Regions from separate parts of the Homo sapiens genome. Here region 1 is linked to region 2. Evidence: fine-mapped expression QTL. A gene starts in region 2. The other region holds a variant in brackets. All regions are shown on one strand. Distances are between the middles of the regions. Region 1 has its middle 93 kb from the start of PTCHD1. Region 2 holds the start of PTCHD1 (patched domain containing 1).

What was found. PIP is the estimated chance that this variant, and not a neighbour inherited with it, causes the effect. A credible set is the group of variants that fine-mapping cannot tell apart.
Region 1: its variant is the best candidate, but not a certain one, in a credible set for the expression of PTCHD1 in sun-exposed skin (GTEx, PIP 0.51).

Annotation. Positions count from the first base shown.
Region 1 is chrX:23,424,694-23,430,207 of GRCh38, reverse strand. No RefSeq gene overlaps it. Among named protein-coding and RNA genes, the nearest start is that of PTCHD1, 93 kb to the right of the region's middle. The variant A/T (reference allele first, on the strand shown) is at 2,203.
Region 2 is chrX:23,332,831-23,337,830 of GRCh38, reverse strand. PTCHD1 (patched domain containing 1) reads right to left here and starts at 2,982. Exons shown (of 3, transcript NM_173495.3): 1 at 2,605-2,982. The coding sequence starts at 2,955.

The DNA.
Region 1 (5,514 bases), 92 kb before region 2:
AACCTACCAATACTACCACAGCTGGCACCCACCTACACACACCACCAGTGGCCATAACTAATATGTTATGGACACCCAACTTGTCATAGCCACCACCAGGACTAGCATGGACTGCTTGGGTTTCAGTAGGTTGCTCCACCATTGCTACTGCCATCACCCATATCATATTCGCTGCCCAAGGACCTGGGAACCTATCCACATGCCAGACTTACCACTGGCCACTACCAGATTGAAAAAAGCCATCTGAAAGCCCAAGAATTGAATCATCTAGGCCCCCTAACATTGGTACCAGTGTAAGTCATGTTGGAGGCCAAAGACAGGCACACTCGGCCTACTGCTGCCACCGCTGGTGCCCAAACACTGGCCCTCCTGGCATCCTACTCCCTAGTAAAACTTCACCATAGCCTCCACTAATAAGAACACACTAAGCCACTGAAGAAATCACAGATACCATTGACAATGTTTACAGCTGAATAAATCATACGGAAATCACACTACTGCATGCACCCAAAATAAAAGCCAAAATGCCCTACCTAACCAACAACATATATAGATCTTCAGAAAAAAGTCTTCCTCTATGAAAGCAATCTAAAAAAACAGGAAGAAGTGACTATTACAACAGATGCACAGATATAAATCTAAGTACACAGAAAACATGAAAAAGCAAGGACATATGACACTTCCCAAGGAAGACAATAATTCTCCAGCAACAGATCTCAATCAAAAAGAAATTCATAAAATCCCCAGATAAAGAATTTTAAGGGAGGTGGAGCCAAGATGGCCGAATAGGAACAGCTCCAGTCTACAGCTCCCCGCGTGAGCGATGCAGCAGACGGGTGATTTCTGCATTTCCAATGGAGGCACCGGGTTCATCTCACTGGGGAGTGCCTGACAGTGGGTGCAGGACAGTGGGTGCAGTGCACCGTGTGTTAGCCGAAGTAGGGCGAGGCATCGCCTCACCCGGGAAGCACAAGGGGTCAGGGAATTCCCTTTCCTAGTCAAATAAAGGGGTGACAGACGGCACCTGGTAAATCGGGTCACTCCCACCCTAATACTGCGCTCTTCCAACGGGCTAAACAAATGGCACATGAGGAGATGATATCCCACACCTGGCTTGGAGGTCCTACGCCAACGGAGCCTCGCTCATTGCTAGCACAGCAGTCTGAGATCAAACTGCTAGGCGGCAGCGAGGCTGGGGGATGGGTGCCTGCCATTGCTCAGGCTTGAGTAGGTAAACAAAGTGGCCAGGAAGCTCGAACTGGCTGGAGCCCACCACAGCTTAAGGAGGCCTGCCTGCCTCTGTAGACTCCACCTCTGGGGGCAGGGCACATACAAACAAAAGACAGCAATAACCTTAAATTAAGACAGACTTAAATGTCCCTGTCTGACAGCTTTGAAGAGAGTAGTGGTTCTCCCAGCATGCAGCTTGAGATCTGAGAACGGGCAGACTGCCTCCTCAAGTGGGTCCCTGACTCCCGAGTAGCCTAAATGGGAGGCATCCCCCAGTAGGGGCAGACTGACACCTCACACAGCCGGGTACCCCTCTGAGACAAAACTTCCAGAGGAATGATCAGGCAGCAGCATTTGTGGTTCACCAATATCCGCTGTTCTGCAGCCACTGCTGCTGATACCCAGGCAAACAGGGTCTGGAGTGGACCTCCAGTAAACTCCAACAGACCTGCAGGTGAGGGTCCTGACTGTTAGAAGGAAAACTAACAGAAAGGACATCCACACCAAAAACCCATCTGTACGTCACCAGCATCAAAGACCAAAGGCAGATAAAACCACAAACATTGGGAAAAAACGGAGCAGAAAAAACGGAAACTCTAAAAATCAGAGCACCTCTCATCCTCCAAAGCAACACATCTCCTCACCAGCAACAGAACAAAGCTGGATGGAGAATGACTTTGACGAGATGAGAGAGGAAGGCTTCAGAAGATCAAACTACTCCGAGCTAAAGGAGGAAGTTCGAACTAATGGCAAAGAAGTTAAAAACTTTGAAAAAAAATTAGACAAATGGCTAACTAGAATAACCAATGCAGAGAAGTCCTTAAAGGACCTGATGGAACTGAAAACCATGGCACAAGAACTACGTGATGAATGCACAAGCCTCATTAACCGATGTGATCAAATGGAAGAAAGGGTATCAGCGATGGAAGACGAAATGAATGAAATGAAGCATGAAGGGACGTTTAGAGAAAA[A/T]AGAATAAGAAGAAATGAACAAAGCCTCCAAGAAGTATGGGACTATGTGAAAAGACCAAATCAACGTCTAATTGGTGTACCTGAAAGTGTCGGGGAGAATGGAACCAAGTTGGAAAACACTCTGCAGGATATTATCCAGGAGAACTTCCCCAATCTAGCAAGGCAGGCCAACATTCAAATTCAGGATATACAGAGAATGCCACAAAGATACTCCTCGAGAAGAGCAGCTCTAAGACACATAATTGTCAGATTCACCAAAGTTGAAATGAAGGAAAAAATGTTATGGGCAGCCAGAGAGAAAGGTCAGGTTACCCACAAAGGGAAGCCCATCAGACTATCAGCGGATCTCTCGGCAGAAACTCTACAAGCCAGAAGAGAGTGGGGACCAATATTCAACATTCGTAAAGACAAGAATTTTCAACCCAGAATTTCATCTCCAGCCAAACTAAGCTTCATGAGTGAAGGAGAAATAAAATCCTTTACAGACAAGCAAATGCTGAGAGATTTTGTCACCACCAGGCCTGCCCTAAAAGAGCTCCTGAAGGAAGAACTAAACATGGAAAGGAAAAACCGGTACCAGCCACTGCAAAAACATACCAAATGGTAAAGACCATCAAAGCTAGGAAGAAATAGCATCAACTAATGAGCAAAATAACCAGCTAACATCATAATGACAGGATCAAATTCACACATAACAATACTAACCTTAAATGTAAATGGGTTAAATGCTCCAATTAAAAGGCACAGACTCTCATATTGGATAAAGAGTCAAGACACATCAGTGTGCTGTATTCAGGAAACCCATTTCACGTGCAGAGACACACATAGGCTCAAAATAAAGGGATGGAGGAAGATCTACCAAGCAAATGGAAAACAAATAAAGGCACGGGTTGCAATCCTCATCTTGGATAAAACAGAGTTTAAACCAGCAAAGATCAAAAGAGACAAAGAAGGCCATTACATAATGGTAAAGGGATCAATTCAACAAGAAGAACTAACTATCCTAAATATATATGCACCCAATACAGGAGCACGCAGATTCATAAAGCAAGTCCTTAGTGACCTACAAAGAGACTTAGACTCCAACACAATAATAATGGGAGACTTTTAACACCCCAGTGTCAACATTAGACAGATCAACAAGACAGAAAGTTAACAAGGATATCCAGGAATTGAACTCAGCTCTGCACCAAGCAGACCTAATAGACATCTACAGAACTCTCCACCCCAAATCAACAGTATATACATTCTTTTCAGCACCACACCATACCTATTCCAAAATTGACCACATCGTTAGAAGTAAAGCCCTCCTCAGCAAATGTAAAAGAATAGAAATTTTAACAAACTGTCTATGAGACCACAGTGCAATCAAACTAGAACTCAGGATTAAGAAACTCACTCAAAACCACTCAACTACATGGAAATGGGACAACCTGCTCCTGAATGACTACTGGGTACCTAACGAAATGAAGGCAGAAATAAAGATGTTCTTTGAAACCAATGAGAACAAAGACACAACATTCCAGAATCTCTGGTACACATTCAAAGCAGTGTTTAGAGGGAAATTTATAGCACTAAATACCCACAAGAGAAAGCAGGAAAGATCTAAAATTGACACCCTAACATCACAATTAAAAGAACTAGGGAAGCAAGAGCAAACACATTCAAAAGCTAGCAGAAGGCAAGAAATAACTAAGATCAGAGCACAACTGAAGGAAATAGAGACACAAAAACCCCTTCAAAAAATCAATGAATCCAGGAGCTGGTTTTTTGAAAAGATCAACAAAATTGATAGACCGCTAGCAAGACTAATAAAGAAGAAAAGAGAGAAGAATCAAATAGACGCAATAAAAAATGACAAAGGGGATATCACCACCGATCCCACAGAAATAGAAACTACCATCAGAGAATACTATAAACACCTCTACACAAATAAACTAGAAAATCTAGAAGAAATGGATAAATTCTTCGACACATACACTCTCCCAAGACTAAACCAGGAAGAAGTTGAATCTCTGAATAGACCAATGGGAAGCTCTGAAATTGAGGCAATAAGTAATAGCTTAGCAACCAAAAAAAGTCCAGGACCAGATGGATTCACAGCCGAATTCTACCATAGGTACAAGGAGGAGCTGGTACCATTCCTTCTGAAACTATTCCAATCAATAGAAAAAGAGGGAATCCTCCCTAACTCATTTTATGAGGCCAGCATCATCCTAATACCAAAGCCTGGCAGAGAGACAATAGAAAAAGAGAATTTTAGACCAATATCCTTGATGAACATTGATGCAAAATCCTCAATAAAATACTGGCAAAAAGAATCCAGCAACACATCAAAAAGCTTATCCACCATGAACAAGTGGGCTTCATCCCTGGGATGCAAGGTTGATTCAACATATGTGAATCAATAAACGTAATCCAGCATATAAACAGAACGAAAGACAAAAACCACATGATTATCTCAATAGATGCAGAAAAGGCCGTTGACAAAATTCAACAACCCTTCATGCTAAAAACTCTCAATAAATTAGGTATTGATGGGACATATCTCAAAATAATAAGAGTTATCTATGACAAACCCACAGCCAATATCATACTGAATGGGCAAAAACTGGAAGCATTCCCTTTGAAAACGGCACAAGACAGGGATGCCCTCTCTCACCACTCCTATTCAACATAGTGTTGGAAGTTCTTGCCAGGGCAATCAGGCAGGAGAAGGAAATAAAGGGTATTCAATTAGGAAAAAAGGAAGTCAAATTGTCCCTGTTTACAGATGACATGATTGTATATCTAGAAAACCCCATCATCTCAGCCCAAAATCTCCTAAGCTGATAAGCAACTTCAGCAAAGTCTCAGGATACAAAATCAATGTGCAAAAATCACAAGCATTCTTATACAGCCATAACAGACAAACAGAGAGCCAAATCATGAGTGAACTCCCATTCACAATTGCTTCAAGGAGAATAAAATACCTAGGAATCCAACTTAGAAGGGATGTGAAGGACTCTTCAAGGAGAACTACAAACCACTGCTCACTGAAATAAAAGAGGATACAAACAAATGGAAGAACATTCTATGCTCATGGGTGGGAAGAATCAATATTGTGAAAATGGCCATACTGCCCAAGGTAATTTATAGATTCAATGCCATCCCCATCAAGCTACCAATGACTTTCTTCACAGAATTGGATAAAAACTACTTTAAAGTTCATATGGAACCAAAAAAGAGCCCGCCTTGCCAAGTCAATCCTAAGCCAAAAGAGCAAAGCTGGAGGCATCACGCTACCTGACTTCAAACTATACCACAAGGCTA
Region 2 (5,000 bases):
TTCATGCTTGAAGCAACACCCTACACAGCCCTACAAGTCACCTCCTCAGTTCTGTACTGGGGTATGAAAAAGCCTCAGACCTGCTCATGCTCTGTCCACTTCACTTCATTTCAAATGTGACGCCATAAAACCGGCAGGGGGCAGGGACTGTTGGGTGTTGTGTAGTGTTAACTGTCAATGCTATCCTTGATGCCAGTAACGAAGCATCAGAATAACACTAGTAACAACAATAACAGTGATTCTTTCACTCCTGACACCTTTCCTAAAGGACAAGTCATCATGTCTCTAAATGAAAAAAATTAAAAAAAAAAAAGTGCTCACTCCCACACTTTACATTACCATGACTAATGAAGGTCCATCTTCCTGTCCCCTGGCTCCATATCTACCAAAAGTAGGGGCTGGATGCAGAAAGAAAAAATTAAACATATAATTTAAAATTGAAGACAGTTATTTCCTTGGTTCCGTAAGTCTGGATTTTTATAAGCTGTATGAACTCATTTGACCAGAGAGTCATCAGCTAGAAATAAGTTCGGACCACTGCTAGGCTTGGTTTTGATTTTACTCAGACACCTAGAAGATGAAAAACCATCCCAGTTCTTAAAACAATCCACTGATTTTTGACCATTGTCCTTTAAAGTTGCCCTTTAGATATGGAGGCAAACCAAGCCTCCGTCTCTCCAGTCTCAACCTTCTCCTATAGCACTGTTTTCTGTCCTGAACTGATCAAAATCAAATAGGGAAGAAGTAATCCAGTTGAAAAGAGATCTGATAATGCTTGTTGATGTCTCATTAACCTTGAGAGTGACTGTAACTGGTGACTGCCTGTCACAGTGGTGTGATGGTTTGTGGGTGGGGGGGGAAAGGCAATGGAAACGTCACCTTGAAAAAACACAAAAAGAGAAATATCATTTAGTAGATCATCAATCAAAAGACGGGGCATTTCCAACTGTCAGAACTGGTTAAATTACAGTTTCCTTATGCCCATGATGAATCTACTATGTGTTTTCGTGGGAAAGCTTTTGGAGCAGTATTTATCTGTGTCCCAAAATATAGTCACTAAAGTATTGAGAGAAAAAAGAAAACCACTTTGATGCTGGAAGTCTAATCATGAGAAAAACAAACATCTCGGGATTAATGTTATTAAGGTTCTGTGATGAGTAAATGTGTGATGTGTGCCATTAAAAATATCATGAGCCACTCCATGTGGGAAGATCCTAATTCCATTGAGCCCCTAGTCAGATTCCCCTCATTACTAATTGCTAATTGATAACATGTCAACAAACGGACATAGGAAAATAATGAAAATTAGCTTGTCTCTAGGGATAAACTATTACCTGTAGAGGAAAAGAAGAGGAAAGAGTTCCCCAGGTTTCCCGGCAGACTCCCCTTGGGATAAGTAGACTAGAAATCTAACCAGCCTCTAGTACCAGATCTGGACTAGAGACTCACACAAAACGATCACCTTCCATCCCTCTGCACCAGAGTCCCAGCTGGGACTGGTTCTTGTCTGCCCTCCCCAAAGGAGAACCTTAAGTAAACAAGCCCCACAGTCCCCATCAGGGATTCAGATGGAACATTCTCACCTATTTTTACTTTTCTCTCCCGAGGTCTCCACTTTTCCATCTCTAGTCCTCACTCCTCTGCTTTTCTTAGGAAGTTCCTGAAAGTTACCACCATTAACCTCACTTTCCACATCAAATTCCCACCTCAAGCTGATGGCACAACCGGTTTCTGCGAGTGTCACCCTCTAACCAGCTGCTCGGTTTCCTGTGCTCTTCTCGGGGTCACACAGCCTGGCTTCTGTTCTCACCCTTCGGGCTCTGCCCCTCACCCCCATGCTCAGATGCACCCAAATAAAAGTGGATTGATCGGTTCCCTCTTTTCCCAAAGTTTTGGCATTTCTTGAGGAGCTACTGTGAAAGACGAAGGAACTGCGAATTACAAACATAATTTCATACCCTAGAAGATAGAGATGGCTACCTCGCTCCGGAGAAGAGAGCAGCAGGGCAGCCCCCTGTCCTCGCCAGAGACCACACTTCTTTCTGGGTGGGTGGGAGGCATCTTCATCACCATCCCGCCTCACATTCTTTTGTCCTTTCCCAACATCCCACACCAACAACCGTTCCCCAAACACTCCGGGGGGCCAGAAAAAGGGAGAAACAAAACTGAGGACAGGGAGGGGTATCTCGGAATCCCCTCCAAGCATAGTATTTTGTTCTCAAGTAGTAGGACTTTCCAGAATGTCTTCTCTCGTTCTGCTCCTTGCTGGCCCAGTTACCCCAAAGCCTCCCCACCCCCAAGCCCACTGCGACCAAAACAAGCGCACCGACCACAGCACTGTGGCCGCCGCCGCCCCAACTGTTGCAGCAGCTGCGGGGTGGCGGTAGAGGCGACGCGGGCAGGGCCGGACCCGGACCCCGACGCTCCTTGTCCAGGAGGCTGGGAGGCTCCAGTCGGCCGCCCTGGGGCGCGCGGTGCAGGAGAGTCCCTGCGGCAGCTGCCTGGGCTAGGAGAGGTGGCGCTCTCAGCCGGGACCCCAGCGCAGAGCCAGCCCGACCGCGGCCGCGGCGCTGGCGGAGTCTGCCCGCACCCGTCCCCTCTCACCTTTAAGATCAGGTCGGTGTGATGCTGGTCCAGCATGTTGGCTTTCTGGAAGGAGGTGACGATGACCCGGCCGTAGCGCCCGGGGGTCTGCAGGTCCGAGTAGAGACGGTGCTTGGAGCGGTTGACCGGGAAGAGGCTGTTAACGAGGTTGCGCTCGATCTTGGCCAGGCTGTGCTGGGGCGCCAGCAGGTGCTCCACGCTCTCCTCGACCTGGTAGCGGCTGAAGCTGGCGCCGAGCAGGATGGAGATGAGCACCGGCGCCGAGGCGAAGAAGACAGGGTGACTGGCAATGAAGTGGCCGAGCCGGGAGAAACACGTCCTCAAGCCCCTGTGCAGAACCTGCCGCAGCATCCTAGAGCAGAGCGGGCGCGGGAGGAGGGCGAGGCGCACGCTCGGCGCGGGTTCGGGCGGCGGCGGCGGCGGCGGCGGCGGCGGCGGCAGCGGCGCCCGCGGCGGCGGCGACGGCGGCGGCGGCGAGACCCTGAGCTCTCCCGGAGCCGCGGCACCACCATCGGGGAGTCCCGCGCCGCGCCTCGGGAGGGTCCCCTCGAGCCGGAGACACGCCCTCCTGCCCGCGGCCGCGCCCTCCCGGAGAGCCCCCCAGCTTGGCGGCCTCTGCGCCGCCCCCACTCCGCCCTACCGCGTGCGCCCTCCCCACCCCCCGCGGCCTCCCCGCCAGGGGGGCTCCGCGCCGCGCGGCCGCGTCCCCTCTCAGCGCGGGCGGGGCCCGGGGCAGCCCCCGCGGCTCGTCATGACCCCACTCACCCGACCCCCAAGGCCAACGACGGGGTGGCGCGGGGAGCGGCGACGGCGCTATCGCCAGGAGACTCTGCGCGCCCGCCCAGGAACACGAGGACGGAGAATTCCAGGCTACACCCAGTCCCCTCCCCTCCCTTCGCTCCCCTCCCCCGGTCCGGCCCGCCAAGCTCGCTCTCCCCTTCTCTGCCCTCCTCCGGGAAGACCCAGAGATAAATAAAGAAATGGCCCCGATTTTCCAAACAAAAAGTAAAGAGTTCTCAGGAGTGGGGGGAGGGGGCGGGTGTCGGGCGGACCCGCTCAGAGCCGAGTCTCTCCAGAGGCTTAAAGGAGCAGGCTGAAGACTGCGTGCGTCCCGGCTCTCGCCAGGCTCAGGTGGTGGCGCGCACTGGCTGGTGCCGAGAGGGGGTGGGGAGCGAAGACGCTCGAACGTGGAAATCACGCCTCCTTCCAAATAAGAACCGTTTAAAATACCCCCAACACTGCAGCTTCGGCGGGACCACGGGGTCCGGGTGTGTGTCTGGAGCACGTCCACTCAAAAGGTATCCGTGGAGAATCTTTCTCTGTGGCTCTAATTTAGGGTCGCTCCAGAGTGGATTGGGGCTGGCCAGCTCTGTTGCACACCCCCCAACCTCCCACCCAGTCCTTTAGTAATAAAAGTGCTGATAATGACGGTCAGTCGATGGAACTGTCCGTCGCCTGGGCTCCCGGGCTCCCGAGCTCCGGGGCTCCCCGGCTCCCGGTTCTTCGCCCTGCCTTCTCTTCCTCCTCCTCTCTCTGTCGTCACCAGCAGGTCTGGGGGACCTGGTGCGGCGTGGCTGGCGCGGGCGCCCCTGCGGGCGTAGAGTGTTTGAGAAAGGCTGGCCAGGGAGTCAGTAGCATTAACCCCCTTCTCTGCCTCACTCCGCCCTCTCCTCCCCTACATGCGAAGGTGTGAGAGTGGAGGGAACCTTATCTCAGAGCAGGAGAGATACAGGTCTCCGAGCGTGTTGAGCCGCAGGGGGCGCGGGGGAGCCCGCGGGGCGCCGACGGCTTGGCAAAGTTGGGCGTGTGCGTGTGCGCGCCAGCCGTGAGCTAGCAGGCAGTCACCGTGGTTCCCCTCGCACTCCCCCTCCGGAGAATTCCCCGAGAAGGCGGGCGCCGGCTTCGGCCCCGGGATAGACCTGCGGCGGCGGCGGGAACGGCCACGCACAGGTACAATTTAGCGCGTTTCATTTCGCGCTCCAAGCTCCTGGGTCTGTCCACTGCAACGCAGACCGAGCGGGATCTCGGAGTCTGGGTCACTGAGGCGCTCTCTCCAGCCAGGGGGGTGGGATACAGGGCGCGGCGAGGGGTCCTCAGACTCCGCGCTCTGAGCGCTCAGCCTCCCCATCCCAAGCCTTTGGTCGCTACAGCTCAGTCTCCCAGTGCCAGGGGTCGAACGGGAGGCGGTGGCCCGCACTACGGAGCATAGACATGCATATTAATCAAAGCTGAAGGAAGACGAATAGGGACAGGAAGAGGAAGGGGAGTGGGGGGGGGGGAAGAAAGAGGAGAATGGGTAGGAGAATGCGCCTCGGGGAGGCATTTCCCTAACGTTCCCATTCCAGACTCCCCTACACCTAGCGGCCCTTCACTTCTCAAACTGAACTTGGGAACTT